Linked DNA regions of Homo sapiens. The protein of the gene in region 3 interacts with the protein of the main gene of each other region in a biochemical or structural test. Each region holds a gene or a part of one and is shown on either strand. Other genes may lie near its edges.

Evidence for each region.
Region 1: the proteins of FGFR2 (region 3) and PLCG1 form a complex in vitro, tested with the Homo sapiens proteins (2 studies listed by BioGRID and IntAct).
Region 2: the proteins of FGFR2 (region 3) and FGF7 form a complex in vitro, tested with the Homo sapiens proteins (3 studies listed by BioGRID).

What each region holds. Positions count from the first base shown.
Region 1 is NC_000020.11:41,140,543-41,147,542, reverse strand, and holds part of PLCG1 (1-phosphatidylinositol 4,5-bisphosphate phosphodiesterase gamma-1), read right to left. Parts: intron 1-7,000. UniProt on the Homo sapiens protein: Mediates the production of the second messenger molecules diacylglycerol (DAG) and inositol 1,4,5-trisphosphate (IP3). Plays an important role in the regulation of intracellular signaling cascades.
Region 2 is NC_000015.10:49,426,242-49,433,241, reverse strand, and holds part of FGF7 (fibroblast growth factor 7 precursor), read right to left. Parts: intron 6,415-7,000; exon of another isoform or gene 1-6,414. UniProt on the Homo sapiens protein: Plays an important role in the regulation of embryonic development, cell proliferation and cell differentiation. Required for normal branching morphogenesis. Growth factor active on keratinocytes.
Region 3 is NC_000010.11:121,588,380-121,595,489, forward strand, and holds part of FGFR2 (fibroblast growth factor receptor 2 isoform 1 precursor), read right to left. Parts: intron 5,880-7,110; exon of another isoform or gene 5,589-5,879; 5' UTR 5,496-5,588; coding exon of another isoform or gene 5,439-5,495; coding exon 5,330-5,438; intron 1-5,329. UniProt on the Homo sapiens protein: Tyrosine-protein kinase that acts as a cell-surface receptor for fibroblast growth factors and plays an essential role in the regulation of cell proliferation, differentiation, migration and apoptosis, and in the regulation of embryonic development.

The DNA of each region.
Region 1 (7,000 bases), on a different chromosome or scaffold from region 3:
CCCTACTGAGAGAGATGGCTACCTTGGATTTCTTTCTCTGAAGTTGAAGTTGAATAACCTATCGTTTTACCTGCTTAGGACAGCTGCTTGCCCAAACTTTACTAGCACACATGATTGTATGGAGCTTCATGCTTCCGGTGTAGACCAGTTCTCAGGCCAGAACCAGGCCATCCTCTTGTGATCAGTCTGGCAACAGACATTCTGTTCTCACTGGAGGGAATGCTCTGTGTTTCACTGCTGGCCTCAAAAGGCCCTCAGCAAAATCCTTAACAAAGTGACATATGTTACCTTTTCCAACCTCCTTGGTAGATATGCTAAGAACGCCCAAGAAAAGGCCACAGTCCCAGTTAGGATGGACAAGCTAACACAGGCACATTATACTCAATTACTGTTGAAGGTGGAGGAAGTGACTAGGGCAGGAAGAGGGGAGCTGCCTCCAAACAGGTGGTGGACTATCAGGCAGAATAGGGTGACCATAAAGTGGGTCTTCAGTGCCTCAGAGAAGGACCATCACCCCTGCCCCCATCGCTGCCCAACCTCCCAACTGAGGGAATGGAGTTGTATTCCTTAGCTCACCTCCTGCCCCCAAGTAAGCTGAGAAACCTGTGGGACCTATGGCCAACTGGAGCTCTCCTTCACTCCTTCCTAGGGTTAGTCACCCTGTGAACTCAGGCCCACACTCTCTGGGCCTTAGGCTGAAGTCAAGGTGGGGTTGGAATTCTCCCACCACACATCCACACCTACACAGCCAGAACCCAGTGTGGTCAATACCCGACTCCTACCATGGGCAAGGCCAAGCCAAGGACACTATGACCCAAGCCCATGCCCTCAACAATCATTTCCCTCAGAACATTTTAACTCAACCATATCCCCAGGTGTCCAAGAAAACAGGAAGCCAACCCCAAAGTGAACTCCCCACCTGTGCCCAGGAAGAACTAAACACACACAAACAAGTGGCCAAACTCGCCATGGCCCAACTCCTCACCAGTTTGGCCAGCTGTTCACTGTCAGGGCCCAGAACATCAGTAAGACCACCCACTCTCCTCCGTACCCAAGCCTTGCTGCCTTGCGCCCAGGCCCCTCACAGCCTTTGTACAGATGCTTTACCCAACACCTGTGTGCCAGCTGGCAGGTGGAGGGACCCCAGGGGGTAGGATGGGCTGCTACAGGGAGAAAAGCGATTCCATCTTGGCCCTCAGGCCCAGCCTACAGCACTTTAGGCACAGCTGTCTCCTGCCAGCCCTGGGCATTAGCGGTTTTCTGCATGGTCCAGATCACAAGCTTCTCAGGATCAAGGACTGGGTCACCTCGTTTTCTTGCTTCCTAACTCCAGCCTCCTCTGTGCCAGGCCTGGGCTCAGTAAAAAGGGATGCCAGTCTTCTGTAGGAGAACGCCCTGCCCCGTTTACTCTGCATCCTGAGTCTTGCTGAAGCCAGGGCCACCGGCCAACACCAGGAAGGGCCAGGGCCGGAAGGAAGCAGCAGAGCCTATACACAAAGCCTACATGTGGACTATAAAAAGGAGCTCCTCCCTGCCTCCCCCAGGATGGGCCCGGTTCCTAGGAGGTAAAGAGTGGGGAGAAAGCTAGGACTTAAGCCTGGGCACACAGCCACTGCAGCCTCTCAAAAGCTAGCCAAGAACCACCTCAAAAGGAACTAGTCTTGCAAGGAGGGGTGCGAGAATATTAAGGGCTTAGCCAGGAATGCAAGTAGAGACTCTCCAAGTCCCATCTCTTGGGACCATAGCCTCTCTTAAGGCAACCAACTCCACTGTCCCCATTGCTTCTTCCCCAAAACTACAGAATATTCGGGGACCAACCCCTTCTCACACTTCTCTACTCTCTAGGGGCTGAAAACACCCCCTAGAAGTCTCTAGGCACCCATATTCCCCACTTTCTCTGGAGACTTCAGCACACCCAGCAAAGCTCTGGGAAGCAAGTGTGATGAGTGGCAGAAGTAGCGAGAAACTCAAACTCTGGGCAGCAGGAGGATACTGTGGCCACAACAGAGTAGGCTCAGCAGGCAGCTCAAGTAGGGCCATGGGTTGGTGGGGAAGGCGGGGGCAGCTATGGCAGAGATGACAATTAGGCAAGGGCCACACAAATATACCTATTTCAAAGATGTCAGCCAAGACAGTCTCTTGACCCACACAGGCAGCACTCTACTCTACCACAACAGCAAAGCCACACTCACCACATGCATCCTAAGTCATAGAAATTAATTCCTTCTAAACCTCCATACTCCAAATCCCTCTCCAGCCTAGTTTGCCCAGGGTGTTCAGGTTCTGTACTAGAGGCCTCACCCAGAACCACTGAGGCCACTCTCCAGGGACGGTGGTGTAGGTTAGCACACATAGCAAACAGGGGAAATTAACCTTCCTTGTTGCCAGCCATTGATATGTGGGCATCATTTGTTATCACAGCACACCCTCACCTACCCTGACAGAGCAGCCTCTTGCCTTATTTCCTTCATAGAACTCACCAAATCCTATAAGAATTTTATCTGTCTGCCTATTTATCTCCTTTCTGGCTGTATCTACCCTAACCTTATGTCCACTACTGGTCTCCACAGTGCTTGGCACAGTTAGCAAATGCCAGAGTCTAAAGCCAGGGAAGCACAAGTCGTCTCTCACTTATTCAATGAGCCACTGAGGCCCAAGAAAGCTAGTTTTTTGTTTTTTTTTAAGGAGAGTAGGTATGGTGAGATGGAACACAAACCACGCTAGAGATCTACTGCCACCATGAACAAGTCAGAGGCTGGAGTAATCACATCCAGCTCAGTGTGCCCAACACACAGTAGCAAGGCCCACAACAAATGTATGACAAATTAAAGAGCACATGAATGAATGCATGCTCTTGAGTTGTCATAGAGAATCCTGGAAAAGCCCTTCTCAGGATATTTGGGGCATGGAGCCCCAGGTTCCCATGTTCTGTAGAAGCTTAGGCGGAAGTGTCACCACAAACCAGAAAGTCAAGAGGGTGAGGCTCTTCTGTGTCCCACCCCCAATCAGCGGCTACATTCACCCCCATGTAGGAGTGTGGGAAAGGTCTGGGTGGGCCAAGCATCTCGACACCGGTGTTGTGGCAAGGATGAGTGCAGGACGGGTTTTGAAATTGAGGCAATGAGTCCAGCTTGTCCACAGATGGAAGTCTAGGCTGGTCAAACACATGTGGCCAGAGGGAAGAAAAACAAAACAAAACAAAATAACCCTCTGTTCCTATAGAACGGTCCATCCTATTATCATTTTCCCCAGAATGGGAGAATAAACTGAATACTATAGCAGGAATCTGAAATCCTAGGATCTGCCATGAACTTGCTATGTGACCTTACCCTTAGGGCTTGGTTTTCTCCTCTGTAAGAGAGGGATAGTAACTCCTGCCCTCCATGGATTCATGGAGCTGCTGTGAAGTTCAAACAATACAACAGGTGAGAAAATGTTCCATGAACTCCCAATATGCTATTCCAATTCCAGAGTTTTTTGATGCCCCAGTCCTCTGTGTACAGACTCAGGGAAGGAACACAGAAAGCAAGTAGGAAACAGACTCCTAGCCCAGGTTGTTGGAGCAGCCACTTGTGGCCGAGCTTAGTGGTGGAAAAGATTGGAGCTCTGTGGTTAACAAAGGTGAGAGTAAAGGAAATGAATACTGTTAAGTGGCCACTAAGTGACAAATGTTGTGCTGGGTAGTTTTCACATAAAATCTCTTACTCTTATATATAATCTCCCTTATTATTAATATACAGCTCTGTGAGGAGAAATTACTTTTACAGCTAAAGATCAATTTCAGACAGGGAAAAGTAATCTGCCCAAGGTCACAGTAAGAGCTGAGACCTGAACCCAAATCTGACCAGCTCTAGCCACAAATCTCCAGGCACTTCAGCTCAATTACCAGCAAGGTGGGACTATCTGGTCAATGGTAGCCTGAAGCCACTCCTCACCCGTGGCTCCACCTTGAGTCTTGCCACCTGTAAACATGCTGCTCTCAGAGATTCCCTCCAAGGACGCACTGTTCCCATGCTCCTCTCAACAAGGCACTCTACAAGGGGCACCAGAACATTCCCATCCTCCTATCCCACACCCATCTCTCCTAGGACTCTCCTCACAGTCTGCAGTGACTTCTCTAGTTCTAACAAAGCAAGTGGAAAGGGGGAAAAATCAGTCTCCTAATATCACACCTTTGCAATCTCAGGCCTCACTCCCTTCCTCCAACTTATCATCTGTGGTCTCCTTGAAGCCACATCCCACAGGAAAAGGCACAGAGTAAGAAGAGATGCTGTGAGTTAACGGAGACTGACACAGAACAGTGACAGCAGAGGCAGGCCCTACCACATCGAGGCTGTGGCATTAGAGCACTTCCTCAAAGACAAGATCTCTCCAGATAGCGTCCTGGGCTAGGCACTTAGAAATAGGACAATATCATACCTTCACTCTACAGAAGGGGTTACCACCCAAAGCAGCTGCTTCCAGCCAACTGCCCTGTCTCCCTGCAAAACCAGCAGTGGGAAAGAGCCCTGACAATAGAGGGACTGCTGAGAGCTGCAAGAGAGGATGGGCGGGCCTCCTTGCCTCTGAATCAAAGGGCTTGGTGGCCAGGCACCAGCCCCTTAGGACAGCAGGTGCATTCGAACTCCTCCCCACCAGGTCCTCCTGAGAACTTAATCCTCATCTCTGTCCTGTCAGGGATCCTACGTAGTAAGCACTTACACTGTGCCACACTCCATGCTAAGCACTTTATACAGGTGCTAAGCACTTTATACAGGTTCTCATCAAATCCTCACAAAAACCTTATAAAATAAATGCCATTTAATACTATCCTTTTTACAGATAAGCAGCCCAGAGAGGTAGTCATATGCTTTAAGGTCACAGAGCAAGTAAGCTGCACAACAGGATTTTAATTCAAGCAGAGTCTAGGGCCCAAATGCTTAACTACTAAGCTCTGTCTCACCCCTCAAGACCCAGCCCTTCTCCCATCTACCACCATGGCATCCCCACCCTGCCTCAGCAAGAAGGTCTTGTCTGGGCCCTCAGCAGCTCTCTCCTGCAAACTGTGCAAACCGTAGGAGCTCACTGGCCTCCCTCCCCAACACCTGCCTGACAAACCACTGCCACTGTGGTCTCCCAGGCAGAGGCAAGTCAGTCCCACAACAGCCTCCGCTGACTCCCGTCGCCTCCAGGACTGAGTGTAATCTGCTGGACATGGCACACTAGGGCTATAGCTGTCTCCAACCAGTCCCAGCTTCCTCTCTACCACACCATATCTGTTCCCTACCCCTGCACAGAGTGATTCCCAGTTCCTTAGCCTCGGCACAGACAGGTGCCTCAGTAATTCAAGGCCTACCTCAAAGGTCACCTCTCCTTTAATGCCTTCCTGGCAGAGCTCCTCACAGTTCTTGGTAGAGGCCTTTATATTATGGTATGTAACACACAGGGTTATAATCATATGCCTCTACATCTGTCTTTTCCAAGAGTTCATCAATGGCACAAACCATGTCTCAATAAACTTTTGAATCCTTGGTGCCTAGCACTGGGCAAATGGGGAGGTATAATAATACTTATTGCAAATATTAATAAATGTGCCTCATTCCAAGAAGCTACCCAGAGCAAAGCTGGTAGCCAAGATCTCTAAACTCCAACTGAATCCTGTGCATCTGTGTACACACACACACAAGAGTCTGGAGAGAAGCTGGAGGTGTTGTGGGTCCCAGGACTGGGTGTGCTCAGCTCCTCCAGTTATCTGTGAAGCAGGCCCTTTTCCTAGGTTCACAGGAAACAGAGGATCCCAGCTGGGCGGGGGGGCCTGGAAACCCACACATCGGGGCAAGCCTGGGGTGCTGAGGAAACACTAAAAGGTCTGACTTCCCTTGGAAAAAACTACATCAGACAGGAAATACACAGGCAGGGATGGCTAGCTCTGGAGATCCGGACATGTGCTCCTGCCCCTCTCCCACTGGGAGTAACAGCCAGTACAAAGAAAACCCTTGATGACACCGGCCTGGGCCTTGCCCTCTCCCGTGCTGTGGGCCTAGCCCTCGGAGCAGGCCTCCTGGTGTGGTCTGCTCCCCAGCCACAGGGGTCAAGCCCCAGCCAGCTGGTTCCACTACTACCTCCCTTCTGAGCCCGCCTGCCTCATCAAGGCAGTTAGCTGTTTTCTTCCGCCACCCTCACCCTCTTCATCAAAGGTACTGCTCACAATTGTCATTGCCTGTTTTCATTTCCCTAAAAGCAAGCACCCATACTCCTTCACCTCAGAGGGCCTGGCATCTAGAAAAGTATCTAGTGAAGGATCAGCCAAAGACAGAAGCCTGGGGCCTCAGAAGTCCCCATGGACATGCTCAGCCAGTATTCAGAGTACCTCCACAGTGTCTACACCAGTGTTTACTGGGCCCACAAAGACCCTCAAATGGACAACCTCATTAAACACGAGTCTGAACCATCTCAACTCAGAAAACACCAGAAGAAAAAGTGTGGAGCCAGAGCCTAGAGAGGCTGAGGCTGTCTTGGGATACAAAAGCCAAAGTGGTCTTTGCCCTGTAATGCATGGTCTGAGCACAAAGGTGTCTCACAGAGGAGCCACGTGGACCACAGGGAACATGGGCTTGGGGTTGCTAGTCAGCCTCTGACTAGTGAGCTGGCCCCAGCTGAGGCCCTGGCACACACTGACACAACACCTTGGGCACAAACGATTCTCCATTTCCATTTGCTCATCTGTAAAATGGGACGAAAGGTCTCAATAGCACTCAGCTGGAACTCTACATAACTGCATTTTATTCATTTATGTCAGTATCTGCAACATAAAAGGCCAAACACCAACCTGGTTCCTGTCATACCACCAGGACAACCAAACTTGTCAACACCTAAGCACTTCCCCACCCCGCTTTTGAGCCAAATGACCACCCTAGAAATCAGGAGGTGTCAGCTCCATTTCACAACTGCTGACAAGAGAGGGCACAGAGTCAGGGCAGAAGAAGGTCTTACATATCAGTATGAGTGCTCCTTAAACCAC
Region 2 (7,000 bases), on a different chromosome or scaffold from region 3:
TGTACACAGGTAGAAAAGCAATTGGGGCACAGAAAGAGAATAAGACCATTACTGGCTCTGTATTGAAAATCTCAAATAATTGATTTCTTTGAAGAATGTGGAGATTAATTCATTAAATTTGTAGTCCTTTCATCAGATTATGTTAAATTTCTAAATAATTTTTAGCCAGTAAATGAAACATTTCTTTATTGAAATAATTGAAATAGCAACAAATTTTGCTCCAACTACTTTTTCGAAAAGTAAAAATTTATTGTTTTAGATATATACAGTAAGAATTTTTCAATCATATTAGGATCCTAAAGCATTTTTAGGTTATAGCATAGGAAATGTTTTTGGTTAGTTTATCGGTGGCCCAAATAATAGCTGTTGGGCATCATTTCTTGTTACAGGAGGGTGGTCCTATAAATCTGCTCAGAACTCAGAAAGAATTTTAAATTAGGCTTAAATCCCACTGCAAATCCCTGGATTTCTGTCCAGTATTCATGCACAAAATATTACTCTAATAGTCCGAAATCATATATAATCTTCTGACTTTGGCATACATGCTTAGTTGGTCATTATTAAAATGTTGGTTCAGGTCAATTGTATAGTTTTTTTATTTGATTCAAACAATTTAGTGGCAACTTCGTTTAGTTCTTGACAACACCAAAGATAGATCCTTAGACAATAGCTCTCAAGTTGAAATTTAATAAAATTTAAATATTCCACCCAAACCAGGGACTAAGAATGGAGGTGAGGGAGAGGAGGAGTGTTATGTTGTCAAATAAGTTTAAGAAATCATGTATACTCTTTTCCTAGAGTTTTAAAAATTCTCATTAGTATAGTATAGACTCAGAGAAATTCTGCTGAAAGAAAATTGTTCAATTTTATTTAACCTAATATTTCTCAGCAGGTTAGTTAGAGAAGCTGTGCTACAGGAAACAGCCTTAATATCTCAGGGGGCACTAGTGTTATAAAGAAACACAGTTTGGAAATATTACCTTAAGAAAATTCTGCAAGCTGAGTTCATTCTGAATTTGGTCTCAAACTATTTTCTTAGCATTACTTACAGTTACATCTAAAGTTCAAGTAGCCAGATAAAATGGGAAATATTACAATAGAATATAACAAATGTGATATTTGAGGATATTGAAACATGTCTTATTTCTCTTACATTAATCTTAAAAATAAATTCAGTTTCAGAATAATTCTGATAAATAAGCAAAGATTATTACAGTTTTCGGCACAAAATCAACCAAGAGATTCAAACCTATTTGAGTAATACCTGTAATAATTTATTATCATTTCAACCCCTCTGTATTATTATCTGAAATTGTTATTTCAATTTCTAGTTAAATCCAACCCCCAGCATTTTAGTGGTTTTGTTTCTTCCTTCTACTATCTTGTCATTCCATTGTCTCATTCTTTAAGTGCATCAAGAAAGTTAGTGGGGCTATATTTTATGAGAAACTTTGCTTCATTTTAAGTTTACAGAAGATTTAAAATCCAATAATTTTTATGTAAAGTCTTTTTCCTTTTCTCTTTTGCTCTTTTTCCTCCTGTTCACAAAGATATTTTCTTCCTCTTTATTTTTAGATGGACACTAGCTAATGACTCTATCAAGTACTCATGACCACTCCAGTAGAAGAGATTACTTTCTTCTGGAGGGAAGTTAAGCAACTGGAGAATCTCTAGAGCCAATTCTCCCCAGTATACATCAAATTTTTTTCCTCTGAGAATGATGTTGCCTGCCTAAAGACAAGGTTTACTTGGGCATGGGTACTGGATAATTCTCCTCTCTCACTCCCCATCTTAATCACTTTGTCTTTACATATTACTACACAAACCCTTTCATACACATAGTTAAGGAACTTTAATGACATTTTTGTTAGTGAATTTGACACGACTTCTCTACTAAAGATATGTCCAGATATAATCTCAAATGCAGATAAAAAACTTGGTCCAAAAGCGGTTAAACATTCAGGGACTCTTTAACACAATTTTCCAAATCATGTGGAAGGCAGAGGATTTTCATTTACAACCTATTTGAGGGGTAAAAATGTTAGATGTTGTTTAGTAAAGGAGTTTATATTAAAGTCTATTTCATTGAACAAGAGTCATTTTTCTCCATATTACTTAAGTATACATAATTTTATTGTGAGATATATAAAATTTAAAAATGGAAAAGTATTGTATTCCAATAGTGATGTTAGAGAAGTTATTGTGCTACCAAAAATTGTGTGATACAAAGGAAGAAAGCTATGATCCTTAGAAAATAAAAAAAGCTTTGCCCTAATGTTGTGCATCATTCCAGTCTTAAAAAGAGAACAGTCCTCTAGCTTTATGTCTTTTCTCTGATCTGGATAGACCCTTGCTATGGTTTGAATGTCCTCTCCAAAACTCATGTTGAAATTTAATTGCCATTGTGATGGTATTAAGAGATGGGACCATTGAGAGGTGATTAGGCCATGAAGGCTTCAACCTCCTGAATAGATTAATGTCATTTTCTCAGAAGTGAGTTATGAAGAGAATGGGTTGTTAGAAAAAATGATTTCAGCCCTGTCTGTCTCATACTCTCTTACTCTCATACATTCTTGCCCTTCTACCTTCCACCATGGAATGACACAGCAAGCAGGCCCTTGCTAGATGCCATTACCTTGATATTGGACTTCCCAGCCTCCAGAACTGTGAAGAATAAATTTCTTTTCTTTATAAATTATCCAATCTGCAGTATTCTCTTATATCAACACAAAGCAGACTAAGCCAACCCTCTAGAATTGTGGTTCTCTCCCCCTGGGTTTCCTAGGCTAGAGGTTGTCTCCTTAAACCTCTGCCTTTGAACTTGGTTGTGTGGCCATGAGAGGTGAGATCCTAATCTGGGAGCATCTGAGTTCATAGTCATAAGGTGGCTCATTTAAGTGCAGAATAAGCAGACATTGAGGCCTGTACTTCAAGTACCCTACTGCAACACCACTTTAAAGTGTCAGAAGAGATGCAGACCTGCCTGTCATTGTGAGGCTGTGGTACAGAACCTATTCTTCCCTGCAGCTAACTCATTCACCAAAGCAGTCTTCTTAACATAGTAGCTACAGAGCTATCATCACGTACATTTCCAGGCCAGTTCACCAAATGTTGGAGCCACTAAGATTTGTCAGAGAGGTCAGATGAGCCCAGAAGAACCCTCTTGGTGCATAATTCAGAGATTTATGCCTAATCAAGCCTATTTCAAAATCCTCTAGGGTTCAAGTTAACTTTGAATCCCTCTACAGGGTCTGAAACATTCCCAAGACCCCTGAGGTGGTCCAGGCTGAATTAGAATTCTTGTTCTCCATAAGCAGTGGTTTGCAACCTTAGCTGCACTTTAGAATCATTGGAGAACTTTAACAAATACTAATGCCTGGTCCTTCCCACCTTTGTGAGATTCTGACTTAATTCCCCAGTAATCTAATGTGATCCCCTTAGTCCAGTGGTTCTCATCCCTGGCAGCATGTCAGAATTATCTGGGGAAGCTTTTAAAATTCCTGATGCCCAGACTGTACCTCAGATCAATTTAATGAAAAATTTTTTGTGGGTGGAAACTGGCATCAGTATTTTTTTAAAGTTCCCCAGCTGATTGTAATATTTAGACAAGGTTGAGAGATAGAAAAATGTAGAAAGGCAACCCTTTCAATATATCTAAGAGCTGACTTCTTCCATTCTCTGTAATTCACTTGGGCCTCTGAATGCTCTAGAACTGTAGGTTAAAGAGTTATTGTACAGCTGAGTCATAAGGGTCAGTCTAGATGAGGATTTACAAAAGAGAAAAGAGATGATAAGAGATGCACTCGTGGCAATGAATGAACTTATTAGCACTTCATAAGTGCCAGGCACATGTGATAGCCAAAAAGAAAAGATTATAAAATTAAAAACTAATCAAAGAATGGCTAATATTTTCAAATCTGCTCCCCAGCAGTTTATCCATTCTTCATAATTTAAAGCCCTAACAAGTTACTTAAGGGAATGCGGGTCACCAGTTCTACAAGATTCTACCTTGTCTATAATTGCTAGGATTTTGGTTCGACTGCGTAGATATGTTACTTATTATCTATTTTTTTAAAGGCAGGGGTTGTCCTTACATTGCTATTTTTGATTCTGATAATGTGAATTATTGTTCTTTTAGATAACTTGCTAAGAACTGTTTAGAATATAAGCAAATTTACCATCTCCATATTCAGAGGCAATATGTGTATTTGCTAGCTTCTAACACATTATTGTTAAGTAGGAGCCTATCCAAAGAATTGTTGACAAATGAGTCGCTGAAGGTTTTGTAGCCAAAGTCAAATTCAGCAACGCTGTGTTTATTTGCCTTTTGCCAATTGTTAGGCCATATCCCATCACAGTCTAACAGTCCAAAAGAGAATATTGCCAAATCATTGGCCAGTTTTCAGAATGGCTAACCCTTTTCTTGCTATGGAACTAACAGTGCTTCATTATAATCAAGTGAGGCAATTTATGACAAGAAATTCTTAAAAGGAGTAGATGATATTGACTATTATTGGGAAGAGCACAACTTTTTAGTAATTGGATACCAAAAGCATGAAAATTATCCTGAGGGATTGGATTCTGTCTTCCACATCTGTCTCTCAAGGCGGTCACTGAGTGCCCAGTGCACTGCTGCTTTCTCTCACTCGGCACCTCAATACTCAGCTTAAAGAGCAGTGTTATTTCTGTCAGGTGCAGAATGATAGCCTCTGTCTGCTGTTGGACTGCCTGGTGCAGCAGTAATCTAAATTCACCCTCTGATCTTGTCCCCATGGGGAGAGTTCTGACAACAAAAGTGGAAGTATCGACCATTCATTTCACCCTTTTATGATGTTCTCAATGCTCTTCTTCTTCTGCAGAGAAAATGAATATTTACTTCATTTTGAATGTGTACTTTGGAGGGACATTTTATGCTTTTAGTATTCTTATTATTAGTTAAGGTTAGATACTAGTTTCATCACCTGGAAACCCACTGTTAGGCTAAATGTGAAGCCACCAGAGAGATAAGTAAAGGGGAGAGACTTTCTGCCTCCTGGGTAACAGTAGTACACAATCCTTATGACCAGTTCTCTAGTAGCAGCTTCTGTCCCCTCAAGAGTCAGAAATGTGGTCCAGTATCTCTTGGCCTCTCATGAATTCCCCCATCTTCATAGTTCTTATTTATATGTCTACTAATACAAGTCTTATTTCCGTTGGGTTCCTTGATGCACTCTTTCTGTAATATATTCATTCTAATCTAAACTTAAAATATTTTACAAAACAACACAGTAATTAAGGTAAGACTAAAGTAAGTGACAACCTCACAATCCAGGATAGCTTAAGTAATTTTTTAAAATTCCCTAAAGTTATGAGACATGAGCAGTCACATCCACTTGCCCACCACTCCCTTTTCTTTCTCCATGCCCTCCAACCATCTACCCGAGCCCAAAACATTGTGGAAGCAGAATTATACATCTAGATATTTTACTTCTCCTGCTAGCTCCAATCCATATTTACTAGTATCTTAAAAAACCACATTCCTGTGTGGAAGCATTGCTTCTGCTGGTGAAGTGAGTAGTCCTCTGAAGCCTATTGACATTCTCAGGTCAGTCATTCAAAAAAAAGTCATGAGAAAAGATTGGGGACTTTCTTTTGGTAACCAGAAGAATAATTATATTTTGCATAGCTGGCATATTACTTTTCATGTAAAATTTTATCTTCCAAGACACTAAAATCTATACTAACTTAAAAGACCTCCAAAGAAAGGTGATTGACATGACAACCTGTTGAAAAAATTTAAGGCATCAAAACATTGAAAATGAAATTCTGAGTTTGATTCTGATCTTTAATCAGAATCCTGCTGCATTTCATTCTAGTAGACAATCCAATTACCTTTTTCTCTCATTTTAATGAAAATAGGAAGGAAACATTCTTTCATTCATTTATTTGTCCATTCATTCAATTAATGATTGAGGAATGTAAACAATCTTCAAATGTCATAATTTCAAGTTTCCATTCTTGTTATTTTAAACAAATTCTGAGCATTTTTTGAACCTAGATTTCCTAATATAGCAGCTTCAACTTCACATGTGTCAATTAGCACAATTGGACATTCACTCTTAAAATTATTATAGTAAGGCTACCCTTCAAATAATAGGAAATGGCTATCAGAATTTTCTTCTAACATGTTATTCTCCATATATTCTTCATTGTAGCATTTCCCTCTGTACCTAAGGACTTCCTATAGAAAAAAAAGAGTGGCTTATCCTCTTTTTAACTTTGGAGAAATCTTACTGACTCCTTCTCCAATAAGATAGCCACATAACCTTACGACAGTTTTAGGGTTTACTTAAAGGATTCTGATGAAAGTTTCCCTTTCCAGGATAATTAACGATATCAAGAAAGTATACCATATATACAGCCTATTAAAAAGTTTATAGAAGTAAAAATTATTTACATGATGTGTATCTTGTCTTTTTAGTACACTGGTATTGTGACATTCTAATTTATAACAATATAGGGCGACTTCCTTTTTTTTTCTTTTGTGCTATAGAATTGGTGTTAGAGGAGATGGTTTACAAAATTGGCTTTAGGGTTACTCAAAGTTAGCACTAAATTGTATTTCAAACTATAAAATAATTTTAGCATTTTATGCATGTGTACTACCTGAGTTTCATTGTTTCAAGAAATTTTAACACAAACAAAATAAAATTTACATATGCAAATGTATTCCAGTTGAAGATATTGTTGATCCTAAATAATTATGCATACTATTCATTTTCACTGGATTTTACATCTACTTTTTTGCTTTTTCATTACTTGGTAAAAGGATTCAAAAGGAGTAGTCAGCATGTAGAATTCCACAGTTAAGGTTTGGTAACCTTATTGCTATAATTTGAAATTAGTTCTGACAGCTTATCCTATTACTTTCATCTCATTCGTTGTGTGAGATAATTATACAATGGGTATTTAGGTTTCTTTATATTTATGAAATATATTCTGCGGTTTAAAATAGAATAGA
Region 3 (7,110 bases):
TACCCCCAAACCTAAAATAAAAGCTAAATTTAAAAAAAAAAAGAACTTGGCCTCAAGTTCTTGACCAAACTACACTAAGAAGGCAAGTCAGGGAGGAAGATGGTGTGGTAAAGATGGGGTATGATTAGCAACACCAAGCATTTCAATGCTAGGAAAGCTAAAAAAAGTAGAGCCATCTCTAAATCTCATGGGATACAGCAAAAATCTCTAAATCATATGGGATACAGCAAAAAGATGGAAAAAAATGCAAAACTTAAGGCTAGGACAGGTGTGGTGGCTCACACTTGTAATCCCAGCACTTTGGGAGGCCAAGGCTGCCAGGAGTTGGAGACCAGCCTGAGCAACATGGCGAAACCCCATATCTACGAAATATTTTTAAAAATTATCCAGGCCTGTAGTCCCAGCTACTCAGGAGGTTGGAGGACCCCTTCAGCCCAGGAGTCCGAGGGTACAGTGAGCCACGTTTGACAATGCAGTGAGGGTACAATTGCACCATTGTACTCCAGCCTGGGTGGCAGATCAAGACTCTGTCTCAAAAAACAAAAACAAACAAAAAACCAAAGGCTAAAATCATCTCTCAAGGAAAAAAAAATAGAGACCATAAGCATTTTGCACAGTTGCATAAAACCTACTGGATCAGAATTATCTGTGGAATAGCCTAAAAAACTTCCAAAAAATAATTTCTGAACTGCCTACAGAGATGTCCCCCTGGCGAGAATCGGACCAGTACAGTGGAGAGTAGCACACCAGCTATATTTCCTACCTAGCTTAACAGCCAGGCACCCAAAAATCAATTTCCCATGTTTTCCTTTAATGACTAAAATTCGCTTCCATGGAAATGTAAGGGTAAGCTAGATTAGAGGGAGTTTTTAACAATTACCCTGGCTAAACAAACACCTAAACAACAGTCTGCAAACTGGAAGACTAGTGGATACATTTTATTGAAACTACGAACATTAAACAAAACACTTCCAGTTTAAACACGACCCCAGTTATTTCATAGCCATGTAATTATTTGTTAAGTCTGATATTAAAAACATCTCATATTGGATTGCTGTGGTTTTGTGAATTCTCACCCTCAACTGGGTCAGAAAGACTTGAAAGGAATAAAGTCTTTACTTATGGCTTGATGCGGGGCCATTGGCATAGTAAGTGCTCTGTCTTTTAACTGGTTGAAATAAACAGACAAAACAGAAACACACACATATACCCCAAATTTGAATCAGAGAGAGCCAGTATAAAATGATACAAGTACCAGTTCTCTGGGCTTGCCAGATTTCTGCTCTATAAGTAATATTAAACATGGCTCTTGGTCTATGAATTGTGAAACACTTTATATACTAATAAAGAATGTGTACTTCATTGTGTATTTAACTGCGTAAGCCTGTATTTGGTTTAATTGACCAAGAATAAGTCCTTGTTCCAAAGCTAACTATCAAGTTACAGTCAACTCTTAAATATTAACACTCATATTGAAAAACAAAGATGCAGATAATACGAAACAGAAGATTATTTTAAATCATTCACTCTTGGTATGCGGATATATTCTTTCTTCCTTTCTTTTAACTTGCAATTAAATGCGTATGGTTAATATTATGGCATTTACAATACTTCTAACAAAGGACTTAAACCATACTGGAAAAATCTGACTTAGGGAGGTCTCTGTGTAGATCCTGTCCTCGACGTTTCTGCTACTGAACTCTGGACCAACTCACGTTGGTCCAGGAGAGCATCACCTCTCAGAAGATTGACAAAAAATTGCTACACAAACTACATTTTTTTTCAGGTTGTTACTTTTCAGAGTCACACTCTGTGGAGGGTGGGAAAGTAATTAAGGGTGTAGGGTTGAAAAGCCCTTTCATTTTAGCTCCTACTGGGTTGGTGTAAACAAAGATGCCATTAATGTCAACAATGACTTAATTAACCAGAGTAGGTGACAATGTCAGGAAGAACTTGAAAGTAAGAGTTGCCCCCTCTCAGGGTAATCAAGCTTGACTAGACTTCAAATATTTATAATGTTAATCAACAGAATAGTACTTGGCATTGAGGACTGCCCCCCTTCGAGTCAATAACCATGTTTTCACTCCTCTGCTGGTGCCCTATAACAATGAATGACCAAAAGGAAATTAACAATGAATGACCAACTGGAAAACTCATATTTAATCTGAAATATTAAAAACTAAAATCTTCTAGAGATTATTTTCTTAAGTCAATTGAGTGGGCCCAACCCCACTGCTACTATTTCAGAACGTGTCCAGAAGACAAATGATATATATGATATATGATATGACATATGATATGATACGATATTGCACAAAGCCAAGATGACTAAACATAACCTTTCCCTGAGGGGCCAAAAGAAAAGGACCCTCTAGTGTTAGGGCCCAGGCTTCTTCCTGGAACTTCTCAGTCACATTTTTCTCCTATCCAATAGACATTATCTAAACTGAGCTTCCAAATAAATTAGCAAACCAAAAAGTCTTACAAGATAAGACCTTGGTGCACAGAAGGTCAAGGTGGAACTTACTGCTAACCAAAGCTATAGTAGTTCTAATCATGGAGAACTGATGGACAGGGGCACAGGCACGCACGCACGCACGCGCACTCGCGCACACACACACACACACGCACACTCTCTCTCTCTCTCTCTCTCTTCCAATTCACCAGCACAGAGCCTAAACCTGAGCCCATTTTCAGCTGTTAAAAACTCCTTTCTCATCTATAATTCAATGACCTTCCTAATCACCTCTGACACCAAAGCGAACTCCTGCAACAGAAGAACTGGTCTTAGGGCTCAAATCAGTGGCCAGTATTAGACTAACAGATGAGGGGAAGTGGGGACCCTACAGAAAGCAAACACAGCTTCCTGGAAACACCAAGGGCCTCCTCCATCCAAAAACAACTTTCTTCTCAACTGTCTCCAAAAGCCTAGATGTTTTTTGACATTGTGGCACCTGGCACAGCCAGCCCACGGGACTGGGAAGACCCATGTTCCCAGCTCCCTGGCGACAACGGCGACAAGGCCATGCACCCGGTGCTTACTGGATGCCAGCCCCTGTGCTAATTGCTCTTTATGTCCAGGTCAAATGGAAATCTCCTAACAACCTTTTGGTGGAAGAGTCAGAAGACTTCTGAGGACATTAATATTCAATGACTATTAATGAAGAGACCCTAAAGATCATCTTCTTAAGCCCTCAGACGACAGAAAGGGAAACTGAGGCCTGGGACTTGTATACTTTTCCAAAGCCTCTTCTTTGCCAGGTTTTGCACCTTCCTCTAAGACATCTTTTCTTTTCCATCTCATAATTCTGGATGCAAATGAACTCATAGCTCATGGAAACTATAAACCCATAAAAATGCACAAAAGGACATTAACAAAATATTACCTAAAATTTCCAGAACTTCATCGACCTCCTTCCTGATCCATAAGTGCATCCACAGATCCCAGGTTGAGCAGGCCTGCTTCCAACAATACCCACATTGTTGGATGTAAATTCTTACACAAAGACTCACTCGGGGAACTTCGTCCCTTTCCACGATTTCTTCCCTCTGCCTCACCTGTCCCTCCCTGCATGTATACACAATTTTAAACTTCCTTCAAGAATTAAATACAGTAAAACAAATCCTCTGGGACCATTTTACACTTTATGTTGAAATAAACTCACAATAACGCTGCCCTGAAAAGCCAAAATGAAAAATGACAGTTTTTCCCTAACCTGGGTTGCTCCTAAAGCCCACACCGTAGGAAATCCCAGCTCAGCTTCCTCAGTTTTTGCCGAGCCACGCACTCAAGGGAAAACCAGCAATCACGGAAACATCCATTTTAATTATTAGCAAAATTAAAGACGTACAGGCATGACTTTCAGAAACCAGGAACTTTTTCCCTCTTACATGAAAGCCCTGTAAAAATGCATCACCACTGCAAATTACACTCATCCTGGTGTCCCAGCACAAATCACCAAGAGGCAGTTCCATAATCGGCCTGTAGCTGTAGCTATACAAGCCTCAGACACAAACTCCTACCAGATTCCCTTCCCAGAGACGCAGGGAGATGTCACCACACCTGTTAATTATAGAGCTGCCATCCCTCTGTGTAACGAAAAGTTCCCCAGTCTCACACGATTGCTTCAGGTGATAAGTGCTTCGGTCCTCATCCTTCAATGACAAGTGCCTGGGGTCTTCCTGGGGAGCCCATGTCTCTCAGAACTCTCATCTCAGATGGACGCAACCCTCCTTCCTAAACTGTCCTGATCCAGCTAAGGAGGCTGGGCTCTCTGTCCTCTCCCAGCCTACCCCACTGGGTAAGTGTGCTGTTCATTCACCCCACGCACGAGATGTGTTCCCAGAGCAGCTCAGCTTACCCCAGACACCACTCGGACTGCTGCGGGTTCCTAAAGCCAGGCAGGCACCAGGTGGACTCTCCACAAACAGGTTCATTAAGTGGCGATGAGTGCTGGGATCTGCCGTTTTATTCTCGGATTACCACTCGAAAAATAACTCAGCTACCAATATTCCCTACTGATGACAGATTTCAGTGCAGCACCAAGTAGAGGCTTGGCTCACGTTGTCTCCAAAGGGCTGGGAGAGAGGTTCCAAATCTGCTAAGCTGAATAATTCAGCCTCATGTAGTCCTCGTAATTGGACTTACACCTTGAAAATTAAATTTCCAAAGCTGTGACACCGGCGCATGCCCTGTGATACTTGGAGGTTCTCGGAGCTGGAGGAGATCCCCTGGCACATTCACTTTCAAGTTTACCTAAACTAGAATCTGCCACTCTGTGATGATGCATTGCTTAAGTATTATGAATTACAATGGCTAAAAAAAAATTCTGAGATGTCAAGCCTCTCTCTCTGTGCTAAACTTCAGAAACTTCTTTTCTCCTTAAACAATGAAAATAAGATGTCAGCATTTCAGATGTTGGCAATTTCTTTTAGTGGTTCATCTTGTCCGAAAATAGCAATTCTTTACATTGTAAGCAGTAGGAATGATGCTGGGGGAGACTAGAGATGACATTCATCCTCCCAAGGTTCATCCCTTCCACAGCTCTCTCGGGCACTGGATAAAGGCCAACTCCCAGCTGTCTCCCTCACCCAGCACAGAGAAACACACACAGCAAGAAACCACCAAACTATACCATCCTGCCTGCAGTGCTGCGGCAAAGGACCTTCTCTCATCAGCTCTGCCTTGCCGGGAGCCAAGAGACCACGATCTGGTGCTCTTAGAAGCCCCATTTACAATGCAAGGGTAGCTGATTCTAAAACAGGCCTTAACAATCTGCCCCCAGACAAATCCCAAAACAAACCTGAAAAGTGAAATTAAATGACTTACCTTCTGGCTCTAATGTGGTATCCTCAACTAAACTGAAGGAGGGCCGGGCCAGGGACAAGGTTGCCATGGTGACCACGACCAGGCAGATGAAACGACCCCAGCTGACCATGGTTACGGTACCAATCCCCGGTCCTCTTCCATATCTCCATGTGGACGTTAATCCCATCTGCACACTTCCTCTACGGGCATGGACTACGCGCAATGCCTTCAGCCTGCGGTGGGCTCAGGAACCGAGGCGCTGCCGCTGCTGCTGCAGTCACTAAAGGAAAGAGATTGGCGAGTCAGGGAATCTTCCCCAATGCCAAATCACTCCAGCCCAAGTGGGATAAAACCATTTTTCAGCCTCTCAAATGTGCGCAAACAGAGTTCTTTTTCATTATCTGCTAAATCCTTCCATCCTCACCTCAGAGTCCCAGGTGATACCACCAGACCGGTCCACAGAAATGTGTGAGGCTAATCTTTTTAAAAGCATACTTTTAAGAAACAGAGATAAAACAGTAGCTACAGGACTCAGATACGTGCAGCCACTTCAGTGAGGCAATGTGTGCTCTCTTCTACTATCCACTATCGCCTCCACCGCCCTCAATGAGCAGAAGCAACGTGACCTTAGTTTCAAGGGCAACTACAAAAGCAAGTTAAAAATGCTCGGGTTGGCATAACCAACCTCGTTCCCTTCTCTTAGTCCAACTGGGCTTTAGAAAGCTAAACTGTTGGAGGAGTCTGCTCACAGCTCCGTATTTCTGCTGGGCTGGAGGTGAGCAGTCTCCCACCCTCACTGTCGCTCTTGGGAAGAAAGGAGACCAGCAAAATCAAAAGAATCCCAGGAAGGCTACAGAAAATTCCCACCAGTTTACACTTGTCAGGATTCATTTTCAAATGGAGAAGTGTCTTTCAGTCTTCCGCCAAGCAGCCACTTACGAAGAGTGAACACAACTGCAGCGCATTCAACGCAGCTGATCCAAAAAGGACTTCGAAGCCTGAATTCCCTTCCCCTGTGACTAAATGGCAGTCCAGGGCTGCTAAATGTCTTCAACCTCTGTAGAAGGGTGAGGAAACTGAGCAGATGCAAATTCTGATGAATAATGCAGGAATTTATTAATAATGATGATGTAAATTATGTAAATTATAGTCATGGTATGTGATTGGACCAATAACTTTCCATATGCAAACCTACTGGCTAAATTTTCAGAGTATAAGTTAGAAGAGGACACTCAACTTAATATTCTGTTCACCCATTTGATCCAAGGGAAAGAGAATTTTCCAAGAAAGCTTAATATATTCCAAGCAACTTTAAATTCACTCAGTACTCTCTGTGACTAAGGGTACAGTAAAATGCACAAACTTTAGAGAATGATTAAAACAATCACAAGAAGGGGCTCATCAATCTCAGGCTTCAGATTCTGTGAACCACAGGAATGAACCACATTTTCTAAGACTGGGGGTGGCAGGGAGGCCTTTAATACAAAAATCTCTAAACTCTACATTTTTTATGTACCCACTCGATGTTTCAAGTTATGTCATAGGATTTCAACACTGCTGGAGCCTCCCCAAATCTCATCATAAAAACTGCTCCTTTTAGCTTTGACTGAGGACAAAAATGGAGGAGGGAAAAGAATATGCCACATCATTTCCAAAGGAGGAATAAAGAAAACCTCTGCTTCAAAGATAGCACAGGTGAAACGGTGTGATTCACAGCAAAAGCAAGAAAAGTATGTGTGCAGTGTGTGTGTGTGTACACGGTGTGTGTGCGTGCATGGTGTGTGTGTATGCACGGTGTGTGT